Homo sapiens: one gene and its partners. The protein of the gene in region 1 purifies or fractionates together with the protein of each later gene. This does not show direct contact. Each region holds a gene or a part of one and is shown in the gene's direction. Other genes may lie near its edges. The genes, in order: OS9, PLXNA2, SORL1, ATF6B, EDEM3, TTC17 and GALNT18.

Region 1 (3,500 bases):
CACACGGGTTGGAATGCAGTGTGGCATGATCATAGCTCACTGTAACTTTGAACTCCTGGGCTTAAGGGATCTTCCTGCCTCAGTCTCCCAAGTTGCTAAGACTACAGGTGCACACCACCACACCTCGCTAATTTTTAAAAATTTTTTGTGGAGATGAGTCTCACTATGTTGCCAAGGCTGGTCTTGAATTTTTGGCATCAAGCCATCCTCCTGCCTTGGCCTCCCAAAGTGTTGGGATTACAGGTGTGAACCACCAGCCTCTCTTACTTTTAATAGTTATTTTAGAAATTAGAATATTGCATGCTTAATTTATCAAAGGCCAATCAATCTCTTTACCCTCTTTCTGAATGATATAAGAATCTTAGAATTGTTTGAAGTTTTTTACCATATGCACATATATAAAAATTACATATTTATATACAAATATATATACACTTTAAAAAAAATACAGGCCAGGCCTTGTGGCTCATGCCTGTAACCCCAGCACTTTGGGAGGCCAAGGTGGGTGGATCACCTGAGGTCAGGAGTTCAAGACCAGCTGGGCTAACATGGTGAAACCCTGTCTCTACAAAAATACAAAAATTAGCCAGGCATGATGGCAGGTGCCTGTAATCCCAGCTCCTCGGGAGGCTGAGGCCGGAGAATCGCTTGAACCCAGGAGGCGGAGGTTGCAGTGAGCTGAGATCATGCCATTGCACTCCAGCCTGGATGACAGAGTGAGACTCCATCTCAAAAATAATAATAATAATAATAATACATATATGAAGCAAATAAAAGTATATATATACACACACACAATATTTATACAAAACAAGAATATGAAACATAAATTGGTTACCTACAGTTAAGCTGCCTGAATTCAGTTCCTGTTTTTACCACTTAAAGGCTGGTCAACCTGAACAAGTGCCTTAACTGCACCACACCTGTTTCTTGAGGCACGAAGTTGAGAAACCAATATCGCCTCACTGGGTCTTTGTGATAAGTGAGCCAATTTATGTAAAGTGCCATATGCACAGTGTATGCACAATGCTTGACAGATAATCAGTGCTTAGTAAAAGACACCTGCTCTAATAACTAAAGCAAATTATTGTTGGTGATTAAGTGTATTCATCCTTTCTGTCCTGGCAGTTCCTCTGTGACGAGGGTGCAGGTATCTCTGGGGACTACATCGATCGCGTGGACGAGCCCTTGTCCTGCTCTTATGTGCTGACCATTCGCACTCCTCGGCTCTGCCCCCACCCTCTCCTCCGGCCCCCACCCAGTGCTGCACCGCAGGCCATCCTCTGTCACCCTTCCCTACAGCCTGAGGAGTACATGGCCTACGTTCAGAGGCAAGCCGGTGAGTAATTAGAGAAGGAGGAGAAGACGGGGAGATACGGGGGCAGGGGGTGGCAAAAGATCAAGTATTGAATAGCTGGAGGAATGTGTTCCTGGCCTGCTTGCATGCTGTTTCTCAGTAGACTCAAAGCAGTATGGAGATAAAATCATAGAGGAGCTGCAAGATCTAGGCCCCCAAGTGTGGAGTGAGACCAAGTCTGGGGTGGCACCCCAAAAGATGGCAGGTAGGACCTTGTTTCACCTGTTCCGTGAAACTCACTTCCATTTCTTCCCTTCCCCTGATCTTACTGTCCTGACTGACTGGTGGGGTGGGGGGGGGTGGAAAAGTACCATGGGCCCTCCTCCCTTGGTGATAGAGGAGGGGAAGGGACCCCATCCTATTTGCTCCCTTCTGTCTCACCCCTCCTGTCAGATCAGTCTCTCCCTGTTCTCTGTACCCTAGGTGCGAGCCCGACCAAGGATGACAGTAAGGACTCAGATTTCTGGAAGATGCTTAATGAGCCAGAGGACCAGGCCCCAGGAGGGGAGGAGGTGCCGGCTGAGGTGAGACCAGCTGCCTCAGAGGAGCAGGATGGGGATGGGGAGGGTCACTGCAGCTGGGGCCATTGTGAGGTGACCTACATCTACCTAGGGATGCAAGGATATCCCCAGAACCTTTGCCTTCATAGTATGGAGGGCATGAACAGGCTTTCATACTTGACTCTCTCCTTTTCTCCTCGTCAGGAGCAGGACCCAAGCCCTGAGGCAGCAGATTCAGCTTCTGGTGCTCCCAATGGTGAGTGAACCTTCCATGTCTCCTTTACTGAATATATTTTAGGATTGGCAGGGGTAGGGATGGAGGGGAGAGCTAAGCCTGGGAGGGAGGTTGGGTAGCCAGGCCGGCAGAAAATTCATTTTTATAGGAGTTAATACTCTTTGTAGACAGCACTGCTATTTTAGCAAGGTGGCAGAACACAGTGGCTCCACCACTTGGTGACTTTGTAATTCACTTAACCTCAATTTTCTTACCCATAAAATGAGGGTAATAACCCCTACCTTAGAGGGTTGCATGGGATTAAATGAGAATGCATCCATAATTCACAGTAGAAGGCCTGGAACTGAATAAACTAAATGGTTAATATTTGTGGAAAGAGGAGAAGGGTTCCAGGGAAGACAAGCCCTTAGCCCCAGGATCTCCTCTGTAGTCCTAAAAGCTAGAGTGACTGCCAGAAGGGCCTCAGAAGTGCATGGAAGAGTGGGGACTTAGCAGCTTGTTAGCATCCATCTCTCCTACCAGAGTGTCCACCTTAGGATGGTGCTCTCTGCAGGCGAATATTTGCCCTTGTCTCACTGTCAAACAGGTAAATCCTAGAGGCAGGGACCATGTCCTTCCTTGGTCTCTCATTACCTGTCCTTAGGAATCCAGAGAGAATTTAGGAGCGCAGTAGCGCACACCTGTAATCCTAGTTACTTGGAAGGCTGATGCAGGAAGATTGCTTGAGCCCAGGAGTTCAAGATCATCTTGGGCAACATAGTAACACACCATGTTGAAAAAGAAAAAGAGCCGGGCGTGGTGGCTCATGCCTGTAATCCCAGCACTTTGGGAGGCTGAGGCAGGTGGATCACCTGAGGTCAAGAGTTCAAGACAAACCTGGCCAACATGGTGAAACCCCATCTCTACTAAAAATACAAAAATTAGCTGGGTGTGGTGGCAGGCGCCTGTAATCCCAGCTACTTGGGAGGCTGAGGCAGGAGAATCTCTTGAACCCGGGAGGCAGAGGTTGCAGTGAGCAGAGATTGCACCACTGTGCTCCAGCTTGGGTGACAGTGCAAGACTCTGTCTCAAAAAAAAAAAAAAAAAAAAAAAAAAAGAATTTAAACACAACAGAACAGGTTCATGATTATTATTCTTTCATCTCAGATTTTCAGAACAACGTGCAGGTCAAAGTCATTCGAAGCCCTGCGGATTTGATTCGATTCATAGAGGAGCTGAAAGGTGGAACAAAAAAGGTATAGGCCGTGCTTAGGGAATGGGTAGAACCCACCTCCCAACTGCGAGCATTTGAAAAACTACCCTGACCTGGGACTCAACTCCTGGGTCCCCCAGTACCACACACCTGCTACTGTTTGTCTGCCCCCGACCATGTGTCTCTGTTGAAACCCCAACTGTCTTTCTCCCCACT
Region 2 (3,500 bases), on another chromosome or scaffold:
CACCACCCGCCCGATGACTCTGCCCTGTGTGCCTTCCCTATCCGGGCCATCAACTTGCAGATCAAGGAGCGCCTGCAGTCCTGCTACCAGGGCGAGGGCAACCTGGAGCTCAACTGGCTGCTGGGGAAGGACGTCCAGTGCACCAAGGCGGTAAGGAGGCACACACCTCGCTCTGCTCCTGCTCCATGACACAGGTTCCAACCTTCCTGTCCATGCCCTGGGGCACATCTGCTCCCACACCACCATGGACCTGAAATGAAAGAGGTTTTCAGACTCAGGTTATCAGGTGGTAACCAATAACGCAGGGTCTTACGTACACCAGATACTTGAGATATGTGTGTTGATTTGTTGTCATTTCAAATATATGTATTGAGTGCCTACATCACATCAGGTGCTATTGTAAATGCTGCAGGCTTCAGCTGTGAACCATACAACCCTACAAAGCTCACTGCCCTCATGGAGATTACACGCTAGTTGGGTGAGACAAATGAACACATAATACATGTTAGTTTGCCAAATGGTGATAATGGCTATAGAGAAAAATAAACAGGAAAGGGGGAGAGGCAGTAGCTGAGAGGACTGACTCATTGAGAAAGTGGTGTCTAAGCAAAAACTGAGGATGGGAAGAAAGGGAGCCACACAAGTGTCCAGAGAAAGCATTCCAGAGAGAGAAAGGGTGAGGAGAATGTGCAAAGAATTCAGGGCATGCCTGGAGTGTCTGAGGAACAGTAAGGAGGCAACTGCAGCCAGATCAGAGTATGTGAGAGAAAGAGCAGCAGGTGATGGGGTCCATCAGAAGTAATGGGGACCAGGTCATGTACACACAGAGCTGTAGGCCACTGTGGTTCCCAGTGAGGGGGTCAAGTGGAGATCAGAAATCTAAGTCAGAGGAGAGGGAAGGGAGTCTGGCTTGACCAACTGATGGAAAACTGGAGAAGAATCAGGAGTGTGGGCAAAGGCAAAAGAGGAGAGGATGAAAAGCTCAGAATCCAGACCTGAGGAAAGCAGAGACAAGAAAATCAGTGGCAAGCACTGCCCTGTCAGCGGCTCATGGTGCTGCCATCAAAGTATTCATGATCCACTCTTCTTCCATCATTCATCCAACCATCCAATCATCCATTCATTTATCCACCCATCTCTCCTTTCATCCATCCCCTTTCCTTCCCTCCTTTTATTCTCCTATCCATCTATCCCTCCATCCTCCTTAGCTCTCTCCCTCCATGCATCTCTCCATCCATCCATCCATCCATCATCCATCCATCCATCTATTCACCTATTTACCTAAACCTCCATTCATCTGTCCCTGATCCTTCCCTTCATTCTTTCCTCCATCCCTTCCTCCATCCCTTCATCCATCTCTTTATCCACTCATCCCTCTTTTTTCTCCCTTAATCTATGTCTCCATATCTTTATCTATCCATCATCCATTTGTCTACCTAGCCCTCCATCTATCCATTCATCCCTCTCTTTATTCATCCACCATCATCCATCTACCCATCCCTCTATTCATTTACAAGTAGTATTGAAGATCTTCTGAATGCCTGGCACTGTACTAGGCACTGGGGTTGCAAACATAAAAAGACATGATCGGCTGGGTGCGGTGGCTCACACCTGTACTCCCAGCACTTTGGCAGGCTAAGGTAGGCAGATTGCTTGAGCTCAGGAGTTCGAGACCAGCCTGGGCAACATGACAAAACTCCGTCTCTACAAAAATTCCAAAAATTAGCTGGGTGTGGTGATGCACACCTGTAGTACCAGCTACTCTGGAGGCCTGAGCATGGGAGGTGGAGGTTGCAGTGAGCCAAGATTGTGCTACTATACTCCAGCCTGGGTGACAGAGTGAGACCCTGTCTCAGAAAAAAAAAAGACATGATCACTAGTCTCACAGATCTTATAATCTAGTAGGGGGAAGAGAGAGAGAGAGAGGAAGAGAGAGAGAGCTAGAGACAGCTGGCAACATAATGTAGTGGCTCAGAGTTTGAGGTTCTGAGACAAAAGCCAGGCTTCAAATTCCATCTGTGTTTCTTCCTGCCTTCTTCAGAAGCACCTTAGCATCTCTACATTCTTATCTGTGAGATGGAAATAATAATGCCTAGCTCATGGGATGATCAGATGAGATAATACATGGAGAGATTAGCACCATGCCTGGAAATGTTAGGTTTATTATTACACAGGGAGTTAACAGGGAGTGTGAGAAGTGCAAAAGTAGGTTTCTTGTACACAGTGCTGAGGGCTCTGGATCTGCAACCTAGAAAAAAATATATGAGACCAAGGGGCCCATACGGCTACCTTCTGAGTACTCTAAATTGAAGGTGCCTGCCGTTGGGACCAAGCACCAGTACTTGAAGCAAGAAAACATCATTCCAAGGCTACGCTTCTATTCCTGTCATCATTTGCTTGGTGTGGTAGAAGAGTCGTGGTTAAGGCTTTGAAGTAAACCAGATGGGGATTAAAAATCAGTCCTACCACTTACTCCTTGTGTGACTTTGGGCAAGTTATGTACCTGGTCTGAGCTGTAAATTTTTCGTCTTTAAAATAGAGATAATATTGTCTTCTTTTCATGGTTATTATGAGGATCAAATGGAAAATTTATGTAAAGTGCTTAGCACAATACCTGGAACATAATAAGCATTCAATAAATGGGCCGCTATGATTATTAATATTAATCACAGTAGTAAAGAGCCAGCTATTTTCTTAGTTATCTTACTGTTGTAAAATGAGGAAGCTAGACTAGATAGTCTTTGGTTTTTTTTTTTTTAACGCCAAAATTTTATGGCCACTGGCCGTAACCAATGTGGAGAGGTGGAGAGGAAATGTAACCCTCCGTAAGGGTTAAATGCTTGCAGAGTCCAGCCTAGTTCCCATAACCCAGAGGGGGCCTTGTCAGGAGGAAACTGCTGATTCCTGCCTGCTTCTGAGCCAGAGGAAAGAGGAAGATGACACTCTTCTCTGCTCCAGAGCAGAGGGACAAGCCTGGGCTAGTTACAAAAGGATAGCAAAGGCACTGGGAGAGAGGTGACAGTGAGTGGGGCCAGGACCTTAGAGTGGAGAGCCCCTTGCCTCCACCCCTTCAGCACCACACCCTTCTGGTGCAAGGGCTGCAAGAGGAATGGCCCCTTAAAGACCCTGATACTCCAAAGAACTAAGACCCAGGGACCCAGAAATATTTTGGTGGCCTTAGAGGGGAATAAGGATAAATGAAAGAAGCTGTGGTCCCAGAGCTTGATTTTAACATGACTCTGGAATAACATGGAAATCTCAGATCAAAAATTTGAGCTCTGATCCCAGAAAAGAGAGGAAGAAGGGGGCTATCACTCATTGAATAGCAGCTAGTCCTAAAGGCTAAGCTTGGCAATTTAAGTGTTATCTCACTTGCTCCTCACAATGACCCCATAAAGCAAGAGTTATCTTCCCCATTTTACAGATTAAAAAACAAAGGCTCACAAAGACTAAGTAAGTTGCTCAGATCTCCACAGCTATAAGTGATAAAGCGGGGATTT
Region 3 (3,950 bases), on another chromosome or scaffold:
ATTTTACTGTATGTGCCTCTGTACAAGATGTAGCTTTGAGAGCTACAAAATGATAACACTGCTTTATTACACACTGGTTTCATTGTCATTGCAAAAACTTACCCTGGTTGTGGGGGAGAGTTCTAGATCTGTGCCATGATCCATACACTGGCTAATAGAGTACATAATTTTTCCATTTTCCATTTTTTGTTTTTACTTACTACTGAAGGATCTCAGATGTAAAATTATGTATTTGGTTTGAGATGGCCACTTATTGTCCTTAAAAATCCATACTGATATATGCAGTCATTTTGAATTGGACAGTGCCTTCTCTTTTTTTTTCTCCTCTTCTTCCATCTCCCTCACCCATGCCCCCACCCAATCTAAAGAGACAGTGCTGTACATTCTCATAGAGATAGAGAAGATCTAAAAAGTTGAGACTACTCAATCCAGTTAACAACAGCAGGAGCACTAGAGTTTGTTCATTTATTCTCTCTGTAAAACAAGCTGTGCTTTTTTTCTTCTGCCTTTAAAATGCCACCCGTGTATTCAAACCATGGCCACTTGATACTTATGTAGAATCCATCGTGGGCTGATGCAAGCCCTTTATTTAGGCTTAGTGTTGTGGGCACCAATGTCGAGCATCGTTGTGACTTGTGCTGTATGATTCTCACTGAAGAATTTCCTTTCAGCCAAGAAGCAGTGAGGTCTGGGAATATTCCAAAGTCATGTCTCTGAATATGTGTCCTTGACGTGCAAGCTTTGTAAAACCCCATCCCCGCTTAGGTGCGAGGCATCACCTTCTCACAAGTGTTTAGTTTCTTTTAACCACAAGTATCATTCTTGGGTGATAATATAGTTTCATTCTACTTAGGGATTGTTTAGAAAACAAAGAAAGAGCCAATTAAATTTTTTAGTTTTTGAAATTTTTATTTATATGTATACTTAGATGAGTATTTTAAGCTGTCGACCTTTAGTTTGCCATACGGGTAGGACTGTATTTCATGTTAACAACTGGTGGTAATGATAAGCCTTCTTCTAGCGTATTTTCTCTTCTTTCCTGTCACTTTCCTAAGTTTTTTTTTTTAAAGACTGGAATTTTTTTTGGCTTTATCTTGTCTTACCGTAGAGATTTGTTCAAAACTCTAAGCCCTACCACCTCCCCTTTAATAAGCTCTTTAAATAGTTGAATCATTAACAACCTGGTGGGAGGCAAGTCATTTAATTGAACCACTAGGAAGTGTATTTTCTTTTCTTTTTCTGCCAACTTTTTGGTGGCATTTGTAAAAGCTGATATAAAAGGCTCTGAGATGTTATTTTCAGTTATTCCATAGGCAAGCCTTTTTACAGAGCATATGTCTCCAGTTGGCAGCTTGAGATATTTCCGAGCATCCGGTTCTAGCTACCAGTGCCTCCCAATGCTTAGTGCACAGTACTGTAGACTGGCCATCACCCCTCTCCTTGGAAAATGCCACTGTGCTGTTTGAAAAAAAGCAGCCTTTTAGGGCTAGAGTATTTTATATAAACAGAAGAGCTAAGTTCCTGAAGACTAAGCTAGATAGCTGCAGCTATATGTAAATTGTATATTTTTATGAACTTTTGAAGCACACACTCCTGTTTCCCTCTGTGTAGCTTTGTGGGGATTTCATGTATATATGCTGTCTGAAAGAATCCAGAGGTTGGAGTGCCAATAGAAAATGAAAACAAATGCCTTGTACTACAGGCAGCCTCTGAAGGTGACCACATAACTGTCTTCACTGTGACCAATCGGAGTCCCTGCTTGCTTGTGAAGAAGGGGCTTTTGTACCTTGTTGGAGATGCCACCTCAGAAGTTCACACTGTGCAGGAAAAAGGTTTTATTCTCTCCTGGCATACATTAGAATGTCAGATGCTTGCATCCATGTGGACCACGATGGGCCTCTAAAAATTGGTGGGCAGGGGGTTTGCTTATGAGTTTTCTCTGGAAACCGATTTTACTCCTGGATGTATTGAATGCCCCTTGAGCTTTATGAGATACGAGTCCACATGGATAAAATGTTAGAGAGTGGAGTTCTACAGAGGATTCCAGGAAGAGGCCATGTCTGTGCAGTCCTAGTTCCAGACAGGTGAGAAGCTCCAGGAACTACTGGCTACCTTGACAAGCTGGGTAAATAGTTATCATTCTGGGTAACTGGTTGAAACTCTGACTTTTGGACAAGTAATTCCTGGGGTTCTGTCTTTGGTAGCATCACCAGGGATATTTGGGTGGGACAGACAGAAGACACACAGCTGCCTGTTCTCTCCTGCCCATCATGTTTGGCCCACTAGATGAAGCTGTACTCAGCAATTTAGGGAATGTAACCCTTCTCAGAACTGGCCATTTTCAGGGGAAGCTTGGGAGAGCAATAGTATGGTGAGCCCCTTAGAGATGAGCGCCTACTCCTTCTTGGCGAATGCTGCCTTCAGATGCTTACCAAGTGGTCACTGCATCTAGTAAGATTATATTTCCAGTACACTTCCTTAGGGCAGAAACACCATCCTATCAGGTTTGGTCAGTCCCTTCTTCATGAAGGGAGTCATGGGGAATTCCTGAAAATTTTCTTCCTTCTGCAGACAGTTGGATGAGTCCCTTAGAGAAGGCATCCAGAGACATAACTAAACTGAATATCATCCCATATTGATTTTAGGAATTGACTCTAAAACTCTGTGCAGAATCTTGTGTTGGGATTGTATCTTGACATTCCTGTTGTGTTATTTTTCTTAACTGGAGTGTGTGCTGCCTTTCAGGTACAATTTTTGTGTAATAAAAGCCAGTGCATTAAGTTTATATAGACTACTTTCTATGCAAGACTGAGATATGGAATAGATAGGAAGAGATATGTACTGCTGGGTACATGGACAGTAAGTGTGTTTTCAGATGGAGTACCAGCACCGAAAATGGGTTGAGGGAGGATGGGTTGTATGTATGTTTCTGCCCACTAATTTTGAGCAGCCATATTATGAATTAAATCGTCACAGCCAAGTAATAACCCAAGAATGGTATGAGTTTCATGTGTAATAGCTCAAATGGAATAAGCATGAATGCTGGAGTGGACCATTATCCTCAAATATTCTATGTCACTTCTCATTTAAAGACTCTTGTTATGAACTATTAGAAACTTTAGGCAAAATCAAAAGTATTTGCGGCAAAATAAAGGCCTATTCTACTCTTATTTAAAGTGAAACACTGTATACTTGTTTCTCTCCAAAGCGAAATTAAGTATTTATAATTTCAATTGCCTCGATAAGTTTCCAAGTCACTGAAATCTGCTGAAGGTTTTACTGTATTGTTGCACAACTTTAAGATAATTTTTGTCTCAATGTCAACTTTTTTCACTGAATAAAAATTTAACTGGGTCAAGAAAACACCTCTTTGAAAATCCACTGTCTCTGTGTGTCTCGAGCTGTTCTTTAGAGCGCAATAAAGATGGCTGACGCAGTCTCCAAACCCCATTTGATTGGTCTGTTTTAAACGGATGTTTATTTCATAGATGAGAGAACACCAAGGCCTGGAATAATTTTGTTATTAACAAGCTGGTCTCAGATGGTGGATCCTTGAAGAACACGATGTCTTTGTGTTGGTTGAGGAGGGGGAAGATGTGCTGGCTGTTTTGAAGTAAACAGAATTATTCCGTAGGGACAATGACTAAAGTGGCTCCCTTAAATTTGTAACTACATTTGCTAAGAGACAGTTTGCTAAGAAGGCAATTTTCAAATCTAAGAGACGGAAGCACAGCAGTATAGATGAGCTGTGTGTCTAAGAGCACTTCTATGGGTTTCCATAGACAGTCTTGTGAGGAGTGCTGCGTGTACCTATTATGGGCAGCTGAATGGCCATGGGCCTGTAAGTCAGGATTGGAGGCTGTGGAACTGGGTGGGGGAGGGAGGCAGGTTTTTAAGAATTTAACAGGTCTTCTGGTATGCTGCTTTTGTTTAGACACTGAGCCAGAGCC
Region 4 (3,500 bases), on another chromosome or scaffold:
AGATGAACAAGACCTGACCACCATGCTGACTTTCAAACCCTGTGATTTGGTAATGGGAGAAAGACAAGTACCAGTCAATACAGGTGTGGTCATTCTAGGATAGAAATCACTAGAGGTGGGGCTGGGTGTGGTGGCTCATGCTTGTAATCCCAGCACTTTGGGAGGCCGAGGTGGGCGGATCACGAGGTCAGGAGATTGAGACCATCCTGGCTAAGATGGTGAAACCCCGTGTCTACTAAAAATACAAAAAATTAGCCTGTAGTCCCAGCTACTTGGGAGGCTGAGGCAGGAGAATGGCATGAACCCGGGAGGCGGAGCTTGCAGTGAGCCGAGATCACGCCACTGCACTCCATCCTGGGCAAAAGAGCAAGACTCCGTCTGGAAAAAAAAAAAAAATCACTAGAGGGTACCATGAAAGCTCATAAGAGGGGACATTTCATCCACATTGGCGCTGAATCTGGGATGTGCCCCTGGAAGAAGGGTTTCCTGAGAGTTTTAAAGGACACGTAGAAATTAGCCAGGAGGACAGTGTGGGGGTTGACTTGTGTCTGAGGACCCTGCATTTCTTCAGAGTGGATGTAAGAAGGATTTGGGGAGTGATGTGGAACTGCAGGGGCTACAGGGCCAGGTGGGGCCCCTGCTAAGGGGCTCTTAGCTTTTATCCTGTGGATAGGTGGGGGCCTTTGGAGAATTAAGCAGGGAAGTAATATGATTAGGAAGATGATTCTAGTGGCAAAGTAGAGAATGGGTTGCAGAGGGGCAGGGCCAGAGGCAAGAGAACCAAGGAAGAAGCTTATGCAGTTGATCAAGTAAGATATTCGGATGTCATGAAGAAAGCAGACTTGAGAAAGAATGAAGTGGAATAGATGAGTTGTGACCTCCTGGACATTGGAGAGAGGTAGGAGTCAAAGAGGTTTGTGGCTAGGATGGCTGTGGGTGGGTGATGTTACTGTTCACTGGATGGAGACTGCAAAAGCAGGGGCTTTCTGGTCAGGGAAGATGATGAATTCAGCGTTGGACATGTTGATTCTGTTGTTGTTGTTGTTATGGAGCTTCACTCTTGTTGCCCAGGCTGGAGTGCAATAGTGGTGTGATCTTGGCTCACTGTAATCTCTGCCTCCTGGGTTCAAGCGATTCTCCTGCCTCAGCCTCCTGAGTAGCTGGGATTACAGGCATGCTCCACCACGCCTGGCTAATTTTGTATTTTTAGTAGAGACAGGGCTTCTTTCATGTTAGGCTGGTCTTGAATTCCCGACCTCAGGTGATCCACCCACTTTGGCTCCCAAAGTGCTGGGATTACAGGCGTAAGCCACCATGCCCAGTTGACATGTTGATTGTTGATTTCAAAGTACCTTCTGGATCTCCTGGCACCATCTCTCACTGGCTGAACTCCAACCAGGGAGCCCGCTGATGCAGTCCATTCAGATTCTCCCTGGATCTCAGGGAGCACAGCAGGGAGGGATGGAAAGTGGATTTGGAGGGACAAACAGATTATATCTAGCAGATTAATACATGTTATAAAAAAGATACACAAAATAAGGATTGAAATACCATTAGCAGGCCAGGCACAGTGGTTCACACCTGTAATCCCAGCACTTTGGGAGGCCAAGGCGGGCAGATCACGAGGTCAGGAGATCAAGACCATTCGGGCTAACACAGTGAAGCGCCATCTCTACTAAAAATACAAAAAATTAGCCAGGCATGGTGGCAGGCACCTGTAGTCTCAGCTACTCGGGAGGCTGAGGCAGGAGAATGGGGTGAACCCGGGAGGCGGAGCTTGCAGTGAGCCGAGATCGCCCACTGCTATTAGCAGCAAAAGGATTGTAAGGATTGTTGGTGGCTTTGCATTGCATAGTGTTATTAGAGTCAGATTCTCCTCCATACTTAGGTATTTTTTGAGGGCCTGTACTTTACCCTCAATGGACATGAGACATAGTTCTTGCTTTTGGAGAGTTTTGTGAGGGTTATAATACATCATGGTTAAATAGTTCCCTTTTTTTTTTTTTTTTTTTTTTTTTTGAGACAGAGTTTTGCCCTGTCACCCAGGCTAGAGTGCATTGGCGTGATCTCCACTCACTGCAACCTCCGTTTCCTGGGTTTAAGCTATTGTCCTGCCTCAGCCCCCCTAATAGCTAGGACTACAGGCACGTGCCACCATGTCCGGCTATTTTTTTGTATTTTTGGTAGAGACAGGGTTTTGCCATGTTGTTCAGGCTGGTGTCAAACTCCTGGCTTCAAGCAATCCACCTGCGTTGGGTGTCGGCCTCCCAAAGTGCTGGGATTACAGGCGTGAGCCACCATGCCCAGCCATGGTTAAATAGTTCTGATAGTGGTTATCTCTGTGTAGGGAATCTGAGTGACTGGAGGACCGGGAAGGGAAGTTTTTTTTTTTTTTTTTTTTGAGACAGAGTCTCGCTCTACCCAGGCTGGAGTGCAGTGGCGCAATCTCGGCTCACTGCAAGCTCCGCCCCCTGGGTTCATGCCATTCTCCTCCCTCAGTCTCCCAAGTTGCTGGGACTACAGGCGTCCGCCACCACGCCTGGCTAATTTTTCTATTTTTTTAGTAGAGACGGGGTTTCACCGTGTTAGCCAGGATGGTCTCGATCTCCTGACCTCGTGATCCACCTGCCTCGGCCTCCCAAAGTGCTGGGATTACAGGCGTGAGCCACCGTGCCCCGCCAAGATTTTTTTTTTGACTTAATTTTCCTTTGTTCGTTTGGATTTGTATCATGACTGTATTATCTATTCAAAAATATAAATTGAAGTTTTAAAAAGCAATCTTAGTGATCATATAATTAAGTACCAAAGTGAACGGTATGGACCAGAGGTAGTGGTGGACTGTTGACCTGTGGGCTGAATCTGGCCCTCAGAAGGGTTTTATTTCACCGACATGGGGCCTAGCATTTTCTTTCATGGAGTGATCAACAAGTCATAAAGGCAGATTTATTGGAGGCCATGGAGGCTCAGAGGTGACTGAGGCTTTGCTGTTTGGTGCCTGGGAGGAAAACTTGTGTGACGGGGCAATCAGGAAGCCTCATTTATGGCCAGTTAGATTTGGGTGACTGGTGAGGCATGAGAATGGAAGGGACCAGCAGGCAGCTTGGAAGTCAGAATCTGGTGCAGGTGAGCAGCCAGGGGGAGATGCACACTTGGCGGTTGTCAGCATGGAGATGCATTGGGCAGGGATAAGGTGGAAATCCAGCAAGATAGGAATTTGGGCCATGTGAATGCTGGAGACCCCCCTGCCACTTCCCCTGCTCAGGCCTATTCTATGTGAATAGACAAGTTCTGTGAACAAGAAAGAGGGAAACGCAGAAGGGCAAAGACAGCTTTGAGGAACATGGAGCAGGGATGAGAAAAATCAGAGGAGCCACTAAAGGAGAAAGGGAAGCACTAGGCGAAAAGCGGGGCGGAGAGCCAGCAGGTGAGCAGCTCTGTGACTGCCCCTCCTGGATGGCCTGTAATCTAGGGCCAGAAGAGTTTTATTTTCAGGTTCAAAG
Region 5 (3,500 bases), on another chromosome or scaffold:
GAAAAGGTGCCCATGAGATCCATAACCCCCGAAGGGCAAGAATTACACTGTGCCACGTCCAGTGGGGAGCCATTGAAAATTTCCATTACTCCACAAAGATGCAGGCTTTGGAGGCAGACACATGAGAGTACAGTTCCTGGCTCTACCACAAAATTGCAGTGTAACCTTGGCCTAGCTTCAGTTTTTTAATCTGTAGATTAAATAGTATAATTTTTTTTTATTTGATAGTAGAATATTTTTGAGCTCCAGTGGAAGTGATAATAAATATATTTTAGGTGATTGTAAGGTTTAAAGATATATAAAATTTCTTGGCATAATAGCAGACATAGGATAAGTGCTACTATAACAGGGTTTACAGTATTGCTAGCAGATCTTTATCCCCTTGGATCTTTTTCTACCGAAATGACAAGTTACCACCTTTAAATCATCTTACCTATATGTATCAACTAGTGGGTTTTGCTTTTTTATCTTTCATAGACAATCACTTATATCATGATAAACAGGCCATGACTATTAGGGGAAATATAAATTTTTCTGTTTTAAAGTAAATAGGAGTTTACATTCAGAAAGAACTGTAAGACCTGGGCTCACAATATGCTGATTGTGAGTTCTTTTGTACAGCTTCTCTCACAGGGAAATCCATTTTGGATTCCCCCCTCCCCTGCCGCCCAATAGTTAAGGTAAATAAAAAAAAATAGTTCAGGTAAAACAGAATATTAACACTTATTATGTTGATTTAATGGATGCATAAATTTTATTAATAAACATTAGGAGAAGTCCTGTTTAATGACTTAAATCAGCAGTTGGCAAACTACAAGACTATAGGCCAAATCCAGCTCATTGCCCATTTTTGTAAATAAAAGTTTTATTGGGACACAGTCATGCCAATTTGTTTGTGTATGGTCTATGACTGCTTTGAACTGCAGTGATGGAGTTGAGTACTTACAGGAGAGAACTACAAAGCCTGAAATATTTATTCATCATCTAGCCAGTTACAGAAGAGATTTGCCGACCCCTGACTTAAATCATGCTCTTTATCCTTGGGTATTTCCCACACTTAGATTAGTTTTATTGCAGAATTTATTATATTAACCATCACTATCATTTTGAACAGTTCTTACCAAGACTTCAAAATGAAAATGTAAAGTATAAAGTGTAGAATTTATGCATTAATGTTTAAAAATATTTCTTTGTGTAGTATTTTGGTTTTTTATATTTTTCAGTGAAGTCTAATTCTCATGATCTTCTATAGTATGCAATAATTGTCAATTTTTGTTTTGTTTGTTTTGAGATGGTGTCTTGCTCTGTCACCCAGGTTGGAATGCAGTGGCGTGATCTTGGCTCACTGCAACCTCCATCTCTCAGGTTCAAGCAATTCTCCCTGCCTCAGTCTCCCGAGTAGCTGGGATTACAGGTGCCTGCCACCACGCCTGGCTAATTTTTATATATATTTTTTTCTTTTTAGTAGAGATGGGGTTTCTCCATGTTGGCCAGGCTGGTCTTGAACGCCTGACCTCAGGTGTTCTGCCTGCCTTGGCCTCCCACAGTGCTGGGATTACAGTCATGAGCCACCAAGCCTGGCCCGTCAAATGTTTTTTTTGGTAGCTATTAGTTGGAAAATGGTATACTGGGTTCTGTGGATAAATAAATAAGAGATGATGATCCTTACTCTCAGAAATTTTTTTTTTTTTTTTTTTTTTTTTTTTTTTGAGACAGAGTCTTGCTTTGTCACCCAGGCTAGAGTGCAGTGGCATGATCTTGGCTCACTACAACCTCCACCTCTAGGTTTAAGTAGGTCTTATGCCTCAGCCTCCTGAGTAGCTGGGATTACAGGCACGTGCCACCAAGCCTGGCTAATTTTTGTATTTTTAGTAGAGAAGGGGTTTCGCTGTGTTGGCCAAGTTGGTCTCAAACTCATGGCCTCAAGTGGTCTGCCTTGGCCTCCAAAAGTGCTGGGATTACAGCCATGAGCCACCGCACCCAGCCAAAAATTTAATTTTTAATGAGAAACTTTCTTGTGTTGACTTCTTTCTCCTGAGTTTTTTGTTTCTGACAAAGCATTTTGTTTTTGTTTTAATTGTATATAAATGAATAAATTAGGAATTAGCTGTTTTTTGTTGCAAGGGTTAGAAATACGAATTATCTTAGAAATCATGTGGCTGCAGGAGATAATTACGTTGGTTTAAGAAGGGAGGTTTTTTCACTACACAGAAATGGATTATTTTTAGTGAATTAAACAGTACAAATACAACTAGGATTCACCAGGAGGTAGAAGTGGGAACTAAAAATCACCAGGATCCATGATAGTGAATGTTTTTCACTTTTCTCTCTGTATCTCTACCTCTGGGTCCTTCTGAACTTTTCTTCCCTGCTTCTCTTTGCAATTCTGCTTCATTTTCCAGCTTCTCACCAGCCTTCTCTCTCTTTGTTCCTCAGTTCCAAAATGGCCATTCTAGTTTGCAGCCTCAGCCCCTAAGTCTGTGTCATTCAACTGGACTATTACCCCCTGCTAACTGAAACAGTCTTTCTGTGTGCCAGTTCCAGGTCCCCCAGAGAGACTCAGGGTCAGGTAGCCATCTTTTGTCTAATCAATTATTACCAAGAGGATGGGTCATGCATTCTGCACTTAGCAGGTCCTATGAGAGTGAGCACCCTGAGACAGGACAGATAGTTTCTTCTGGGAGACTGGCATGCGATTTGGAGGTGGTCGTGATTGTCGTCTTCAGTAAAACAGCATGTTGCTGGTACTACTACTATTAATAGTTCTACTACTATTATTTAACCAATGCAAAATAGCAATACTGTTTAGTTTAGCTTATAGAGGAAGAAGCACTATAGTCATAACTATTCTTTGTGTGCATTATATAAAAAAGAAATGTCCATTTTTAGTTTGGTAAAACAATGTAATCATGCCAGTAGTGGAAATTTTCAACAATAAAATTCATTCATAGTTCTATCACTGTAATCCGAGTCATTGATTTTTTCCTTTCTAGGCTTTTCCATAAGCATATGAAATTTTTATAGTCATAATCATAGAATTCTGTATTCTACTTTTTAAATGTATTATTATTCTGTGTGTCCTATCAAGTAGGTCATTATAATTTACTTATAATGGTGTACAGTTGTTTACAATTATAAATAGTCTAGTAAAATTATTTGGGCATAGGGCTTTTCGCTACTTTTGAATTATTTCCTTTGGATACGTTTCTATGAGAATTAATGGGTCCAAAAATTATGTTGGTTTTTATGGTTCTTGATGCATAAAATTAATTCTGTCATTGTAAAAAATCAGTAACAATTAGTAGATAGATCTTTTTAATGGCTGGATATTTTGATGTTTGCTGTATTTATTTTCTGGCTAGATGACAATGAGGGGAGCAGCAGTGATACTGCCCCTCTGTTCCAGATGGCAGGTGATGGAAAGGATACAGATGACATCAAGATCCCCATGCTGTTCTTATTCAGCAAAGAAGGAAGTATCATACTGGATGCCATCCGGG
Region 6 (3,500 bases), on another chromosome or scaffold:
CTTTTGCTATTGCCTGTCTTCAGAGGGCTTTGAATTTAGCTCCACTTCAATACCAAGATGTTCCTCTTGTCAACTTGGCCAACCTTTTGATTCATTACGGCCTTCATCTTGATGCCACTAAGCTGCTACTTCAAGCTTTGGCCATCAATAGCTCTGAGGTGAGGTTTTAAGGGATTTCATAGTTCCGTATACTATGTAGGGTAACTCAAATTTAGATTACAATTTGTATTTTTCTAGGGAAAGCATAAAAAATGTCATGTTTTGTCTTTCACAGTAGCGTTTGCATTATTTCAAGAGAGTGTGAAAAAGCTTTTGTTGTATTTTGATGTGTTCTTTAAATTTTGAGTGAAATTTATAATTACACAGTTAAGTTTTTTTTTTTTTGGAAACTTACATTTAAATAAGAATAACATAAGCTGTAAAAATATACTGCCGCTTTTTTATGTCTGTCTGAAACATCTGGTTTGTATTTTATCCTACTCATCACAGCATGCACACTGCTTAATATTACACTGTTTTACAACTTTAATTTATAGAAATATTTATACCCTTCAAGCCAGAGGACAGTTCAAAGGTGGTTTTGATAAGAATAAATAGATACATTGATTTTCATGCCCCAAACCTCTCACATGCAGCTTATGGAGTTACATCAGTGCTTTGTAGTTCATGGTTTTGAAGATACAACTTTGGTTTTTCATATTTTAACATCTCTGATATCAGGATGGATGTTATAATTGCTGTCATTTTAGGTTTCATGAAATTCAGTTATAATAAATATACAATTAAATTGATTTTATACCTAATGTCTAAATGTTTATAGGTTTTGTATTCAAAGAAACCTTCAGAAGGGATGTGCATGAATGGTTGAGGTTTATTTATGGTGTCTGAAAACTGATTTTTTAAGGATGAGAAGAAAATATTGCCTGTTTTCTTTTGAAATACAGAAATTCACAACTGGATTTTAAGCAGAAGTTTACAATCTCAATATTATGTAACAGGTCACATTGCCAGAGAAGTACATCAAATATTTATCTAGTGCTTACTGTGTACCAGGTGCTGGTACAGTGGGAACAGATGTGATAAAGTGGGCAATGGAAAGCGCAATGCAGCCGTATTCCCTTGAAACTTTTCATGATTCCCTTTTTACTGTTTTCAGCCAAGGGACTTAGGTAGTATTCTTCTGAAGAAAAAAGACCTCCTTTAGTGATCAGTTACCTTTTGATATTTTAAAATCATACTAAAATTTTAGTTGTTAAATACCATGGTGCTACAATAAGAATAAAAAGATAAATTAATGGATCAGGGTGGGTACCCCAAAAATATACCTTTTTTTTTTCTTTGAGACAGGTTCTTGCTCTGTTGCCCAGGCTGGAGTGCAGTGGCGTGGTCACGGCTCACTGCAGCCTCCACCTCCTAGGCTCAAGTAGTGCACCCACCTCAGCCTCCCTAGTAGCTGGGACTACAGGCATGCACCACTGCGTATGGCTGAATTTTGTATTTTTTTGTAGAGATGGGGTTTCACCATGTTGCCAAGGCTGGTCTTGAACACCCGAGCTCAAGCAATCCTCCCATCTCAGCCTCCAAAAGTGATGGGATTACAGGCATGCACCACCACACCCGGCCCCAAAAATGTTCCTTAATCAGCACCCTCTTCCCAACTTTTGGAAATTTTTCCTTATAAGCATGTCTTCTATACAAATATTTCATAATGTTTCAACTCTACTGTACAGGTGATCTCTAAAAAACTTATTCCTACCTAATTTTAAAGCCCTCAATTTAAATGGTTGTATAAAGGACCAATGAATTGATATGCCACAACCTATTTTTCTGTTGCTGCATATTTAGGTTGCTAACAGTACTTAGCTATTATCAATGATGGTTTTCTGCAAAGGCCTTAAAGATTGTTAGCAGTGGAATTACTAAGTCAATAAGAGAATGAATATTTTGATGGCTCTGGCACAAAATACCAAACAACCCACTAAAATGGTTGGGCCAGTATATATTGCCATGAATAAGGTCTAAAAATATTAATTCCACCTGTGTCTTTATTAGAATTGAACAACTGAAATAACTGCCAATTTTTTTGATTGTTTACTAGAGCCAGGCACAATACTAAGCATCTTACATGTAGTAACTAATTTAATCCTCATAACAACCCTGTGAGATGGAATTTCCCCTTTGATAGATGAGGAAACTCTTAAGAGTTAAATGTACAGAGTAAGGGATTTATGGGAAGTCACAGAGCTTGGTGCTTGGTTTTGAACTCAGGGAGATTGGCCACAGGGCAAATACTCTAGTCGTGTTATACTACCTCTGAATTAACATTTATAAAACAAGTTTCGCTTGCTTAAAAATACCACCTCTCCGTTGTAACGTAAAGTTTTATCTTGTGGTTGTTTTTGTTTTTCTTTTTTCCTTTTTTCTTTTCTTTTTTTTTTTTGAGACAAAATCTTGCTCTGTCACCCAGGCTGTAGTGCAGTGACATGATCTCAGCTCACTGCAAGCTTCGCCACCCAGGTTCAAGCTCTTCTCGTGCCTCAGACTCTGGAGTAGTTGGGATTTCAGGTGCATACCACCATGCCCGGCTAATTTTTGTACTTTTAGTAGAAACAGGGTTGTATTTTAATAGAAACATGTTGGCCAGGCTGGTCTCAAACTCCTGACCTCAAGTGATCCGCCCGCCTTGACCTCCCAAAGTGCTGGGATTACAGGTGTGAGCCCTTATGCCCAACCTTGTAATTGTATTTTTAAAGTAAAAGTTTGTATACACATTTTGTTCATTTTAGAATTTTGTTTTTTAGATTTTGTGCAAACCCTTTGTATGATAAACTCTTTAACTCCATCTCTCATGTGTTAAAAATATTTTCTCTCTTTGCCTTTTTATCTTAGCATTTAAAAATTGCCCTTAAGTTTGCCAGTCTTTTCAATGTTGATTTCTATTGTTAGATTTCAAGTGTTCTCAATAAACTGTTTGTTTTTGTTTTCTATGGCTTAATCTTTGAATAGTTGGCTCTCAAATATATAAAGATCTTTTCCTGTGACGTCTCCTGGATATTTTATAGTTTTAGGCTTTACAATTAGGTCTATGATTCATTTCAAGTTAAATTTTCTTTGTAGTGTGAGGTAGGGATCAAAGTTCATATTTACACGGATATCCAGTTCTTCAGCTTCATATCTTGAGAAGACTGCCCTTTTCCTGTTGAATTACCCGTCACCTTTGCCCTGAACTCCAGACTCCTTTATTCAACAGCTTACTTGACATTTCCACTTAGATGTCTAAAGGGCGCTCTAGAACAAAAGGCCAAAACCAAACTCCTTAACGCTGTTCCAAATTTATTCTTCCCAGTCTTCCTCATTTCAGGAAATAATAAAGCTATCTTTCCAGTTGCTCAGACCAAAAACTTAGGGGCTTCCTTCATACCTTTCTCCTGTTCTCAGGGAAAATTCAGTCCACTGGCTAACCTTGTTGATTCTGTTTTCAAAATATACCTCAGATTTTA
Region 7 (3,500 bases), on another chromosome or scaffold:
AAGTGCAGCTCTCTGAAGGCAGAGGGTGGTAAAGGACAATAAGATCAAGCTCTTGTGCTTGATGGTACAAGCTGTTTATGTGTAACCCACTGTCAAGTTCCCTCTAGTCAGCATAGCCCTTTGAACAATCCAGTTTACTTTGCTGAACTGGAGGGAATAAGCGGTAATAATAATAAGAGCTAAAATAACATAGCACCTAGGATATGTCAGGCCCTATTCTAAACACTTTACATATATTGACTTATTTAATCTTCACAACCTTATGAAGTAGGTAATATTTGCTCCATTTTACAGATATGGAAACTGAGGCAGGGAGAGGGTATATGATTTGTCCAGGGTCACACACTGGTATATGATAGTATAGGGATGTAAGCTCAGCTAGTGTGGCTTCAGAAGTCTAAGTTCTTACCCACGTACTAAACTGTCTCCCAGGAGGGCCCCAGGGTCCCTTGGAGTCTGTTGACAGTGGTGGAAGTGGGTGTCAGAGGATGGCTGAGGGGTGAGGGAGTCAGCAGCCTTCCCACTTGGAAACTCCATAGATAAACTCAGGTTTTGCTTTGTTTCATGCCAAGAGGCAGAGGTTCCAGTCCTTTAACTAATGTTTACTGAACATGCAGGACAGTCCCTGGCACATTCTGCAGAAAGTAGCTGTGGGGTGGAAGCGTGGATGAATGGATGAGTGCTGATGCCTATGGCCACGTTGGTTATTAATGAAAGTGTTACCACTCTCCAAAAAAGGTGTTTTGCTTTGGAGTCTTGTCCAGGCTCCTCTTTTTGTTAGAAGGAAAGTCTCCTTGAAGCTGCAAATGTCACAAAATGTTCTGCAGGATGTTCCATAGGACTTGCAATTAGAAGAGGCTTTGGAGCATCACCCCAGAGGTCTGTTCTAGTCATGACTGAAAAGTTTATTTTCGTCTTGGGAGTTGCAGTGATATTTCATTTTAATTTGTTTTCTGATTGAATGATTTAATTAGATGGTGTTTGGGAATCTCTTGGGAATGTAAATTGCAGTTTTGGGAAGTTTTTTGACCAAATAGACGTTAAATGAGAGGGTGGATAACTTATGAGTTTTTAAAAAAAGCATCCTGGGGGTTTAGAAACACAAAGTAAATGTTAGTAAGGGTCAGGTTCTCTCCATCTTAGGAGTAGAAAGATCTGATGGCTTGACACGGTGAGGCGGATGAAGCAAGAATCTGCTAAAGGAGTTCTCAGTGTTGGAGAGTGCAGGAAATGGAAATGTTGATTCAGTTCTTATTTTGGAAATTCAGTAAAAATAAAGATAGCTTTCTTCTTTTCTTAGTAGCTTTCTGAATATGGAAAAGAATGTGCCAATGTTTAAGAAAATATTTAAAAATGCATAAAATTGCCCATAATTCATTCTACCCTAAAAATCAGTTTGCATTTTGAGCATTTCCTTCTGGATTTGTTCATTTGCCTCCATATTTCAAAATGAAGGTGTAGTCATGATTTACATGTAATTTTATATTCTGCTTTGTTCACTTTCTTTTTGTTAACGAAGCACTATTTTTTCCATATTTGCTACATAGTTTATTGGTTTAACATTTATCTGTTGGAGACCTAATGTGTGCCAGACACTGCACTGAGAAAGTGATTACAGTGGTGAACTGTATACTAGAGACACTCTACAGGAGTATGGGCACTCTTGGTCCTTGTCATAGCGGACTTGTTTTCAAAGGACAAAGAATCCCTTTTAGTCAACGTGGTCAGGGCTTGAGTTAGTTAATAGAAAAATTGGTTAAAGAGGAGAGTACAACAAAGTATTACATACATACAATTAAATATTTTTATTTTAATGTTTTCCAAAATGTACATTCATTTGCTAGACTTTTGATATCAGGCCAAAGTTCTGTCTTTGGGATGCATCTGCCAATTGGCGTCCTGTTCATCTTCCTTGCACAAACCACTCCCATAATATCCCATAGTTCTGTTTTCTTTAAAATTCATTGGAAACTTAAAGGTGCTTATGAAGCAGTCTCAGTGTAGTAGCCTAAATTGTTACGATTTTTGTCTGATCTTTTGCAATGATTTTGCTCACATGTAATTTGATTGCTATTCTTTAACTGACTACCGTTTATAAAACCTTTGCAAAGCACTTAGAACTTAAAGTAATTTTCTTAGAAACAACACTCATCTTTTTAGCCGTCATATTTCATTGGTTTATATAATACGTGATTAGGTTATGCCGTTACAGTGACAAGTACAAATAGTGTAAACACGTTTGAGAACAAACCCAGTGGACCACTGGTAAGTGTAAAACTCAACTATTTGCAGGAGCTGTGGGCAGTGGTACTAGAGACAAATAGGGTTTGTTACAGAGGGAATGGCAAGCATAGTTAATCTGGAGAATTGATTAAATGGAGAGTTTCTAAAGAGAACTTTTACTGTATTTTTAATGACTGCATAGTATTCTGTCATCAGTATACTATTATTGATTCAACCACTTTCCTATTATTGGACATTTGTTTTGCTATTATAATTAGAGCAGAAATGAACATCTTCACCTCACTGTTTTTTGAATTATGTTTAAGGATGTCTTTCCAGAAGTGGGATTAGTACTGACTCAAAGAGTCTGAACATTTTTATGAAAGATTGTTTTTTCAGAAGGAAAGGCTTTCTTTACAGCCACCAACAGTGTCTTATTGTACCAAAGTCATGGAGCCTGGCCAGCATTGGGTGTTATCATTCAAATTTTTCCGAGTAAATGTAATCCCTGTCAAATGCTCTATTCTTTTGATTTGTACTCCTTTGATTACTCTAGAACTTAATATCCTCCCCCACCCCTGGTATTTGTTTTATCTTGTGGGACTATTTGTGTCCTTGCTTATTGTTCTCTAAGACTATCAGTGTTTGGCCAGGCGTGGTGGCTTATACCTATAATCCCAGCACTTTAGGAGGCCAAGGTGGGAGGATCACTTGAGCCCAGGAGTTCAAGACCAACCTGGACAACATGGTGAGACCCCCATCTCTACAAAGAAAAAAAGAAGAAGAAGAAGAAGAAAAAAAGACTCAGTGTTTGTGATTTGTGTATTTTACAAATTTTTTTGATACATAAATATTTTGCCTGTATTATATGTTACATACATAATTTTAATTTTACATAGATGCCTTAGGGCAGTGGTTTTCAAACTGTGTACCCAGGAGACCTAAACTTGTAGAAGGTTTGATCTGGGGCCTGAGAATTAAAAGGGTTAAGTGGGGTCTCCCAGACTCTGCCTGTAGGTGCTCCCTCCCCTCCCTGCAAACAACAAAACTCCACTGTCTTCTGTTTTCTATTTGGCATTCTATAAAATATTTCATTTTATAAAAAGTTGTACTTCTTTAAAAAAAAAGTTGAAAATAACTGTTTCAGGAAAAGAGGAAAGATCAGACTGTTACATTTTTGTGAGGGATGATGGTGGTATAAACAAATTCAGGAGAGTAAATAAATCTAAAAGGAAATTGAATTTCTGGGTGGTGTTCTTGTAACATCTATTTACCCT

The links.
Region 2: the proteins of OS9 (region 1) and PLXNA2 purify together in Homo sapiens (affinity purification with mass spectrometry; 2 studies listed by BioGRID and IntAct, with this or other methods). This does not show direct contact.
Region 3: the proteins of OS9 (region 1) and SORL1 purify together in Homo sapiens (affinity purification with mass spectrometry; 2 studies listed by BioGRID and IntAct, with this or other methods). This does not show direct contact.
Region 4: the proteins of OS9 (region 1) and ATF6B purify together in Homo sapiens (affinity purification with mass spectrometry; 2 studies listed by BioGRID and IntAct, with this or other methods). This does not show direct contact.
Region 5: the proteins of OS9 (region 1) and EDEM3 purify together in Homo sapiens (affinity purification with western blotting; 2 studies listed by BioGRID and IntAct, with this or other methods). This does not show direct contact.
Region 6: the proteins of OS9 (region 1) and TTC17 purify together in Homo sapiens (affinity purification with mass spectrometry; 2 studies listed by BioGRID and IntAct, with this or other methods). This does not show direct contact.
Region 7: the proteins of OS9 (region 1) and GALNT18 purify together in Homo sapiens (affinity purification with mass spectrometry; 2 studies listed by BioGRID and IntAct, with this or other methods). This does not show direct contact.

What each region holds. Positions count from the first base shown.
Region 1 is NC_000012.12:57,714,632-57,718,131, forward strand, and holds part of OS9 (protein OS-9 isoform 1 precursor), read left to right. Parts: intron 1-1,128; coding exon 1,129-1,339; intron 1,340-1,457; coding exon of another isoform or gene 1,458-1,460; coding exon 1,461-1,562; intron 1,563-1,780; coding exon 1,781-1,881; intron 1,882-2,061; coding exon 2,062-2,113; intron 2,114-3,238; coding exon 3,239-3,327; intron 3,328-3,500. UniProt on the Homo sapiens protein: Lectin component of the HRD1 complex, which functions in endoplasmic reticulum (ER) quality control and ER-associated degradation (ERAD).
Region 2 is NC_000001.11:208,213,385-208,216,884, reverse strand, and holds part of PLXNA2 (plexin-A2 precursor), read left to right. Parts: coding exon 1-150; intron 151-166; exon of another isoform or gene 167-250; intron 251-3,500. UniProt on the Homo sapiens protein: Coreceptor for SEMA3A and SEMA6A. Necessary for signaling by SEMA6A and class 3 semaphorins and subsequent remodeling of the cytoskeleton. Plays a role in axon guidance, invasive growth and cell migration.
Region 3 is NC_000011.10:121,630,314-121,634,263, forward strand, and holds the end of SORL1 (sortilin-related receptor preproprotein), read left to right. Parts: 3' UTR 1-3,450; downstream 3,451-3,950. UniProt on the Homo sapiens protein: Sorting receptor that directs several proteins to their correct location within the cell. Along with AP-1 complex, involved Golgi apparatus - endosome sorting.
Region 4 is NC_000006.12:32,121,747-32,125,246, reverse strand, and holds part of ATF6B (cyclic AMP-dependent transcription factor ATF-6 beta), read left to right. Parts: intron 1-3,500.
Region 5 is NC_000001.11:184,702,859-184,706,358, reverse strand, and holds part of EDEM3 (ER degradation-enhancing alpha-mannosidase-like protein 3 isoform 2 precursor), read left to right. Parts: intron 1-3,362; coding exon 3,363-3,500. UniProt on the Homo sapiens protein: Involved in endoplasmic reticulum-associated degradation (ERAD). Accelerates the glycoprotein ERAD by proteasomes, by catalyzing mannose trimming from Man8GlcNAc2 to Man7GlcNAc2 in the N-glycans.
Region 6 is NC_000011.10:43,407,420-43,410,919, forward strand, and holds part of TTC17 (tetratricopeptide repeat protein 17 isoform 1 precursor), read left to right. Parts: coding exon 1-158; intron 159-3,500. UniProt on the Homo sapiens protein: Plays a role in primary ciliogenesis by modulating actin polymerization.
Region 7 is NC_000011.10:11,615,506-11,619,005, reverse strand, and holds part of GALNT18 (polypeptide N-acetylgalactosaminyltransferase 18), read left to right. Parts: intron 1-3,500. UniProt on the Homo sapiens protein: Catalyzes the initial reaction in O-linked oligosaccharide biosynthesis, the transfer of an N-acetyl-D-galactosamine (GalNAc) residue from UDP-GalNAc to a serine or threonine residue on the protein receptor.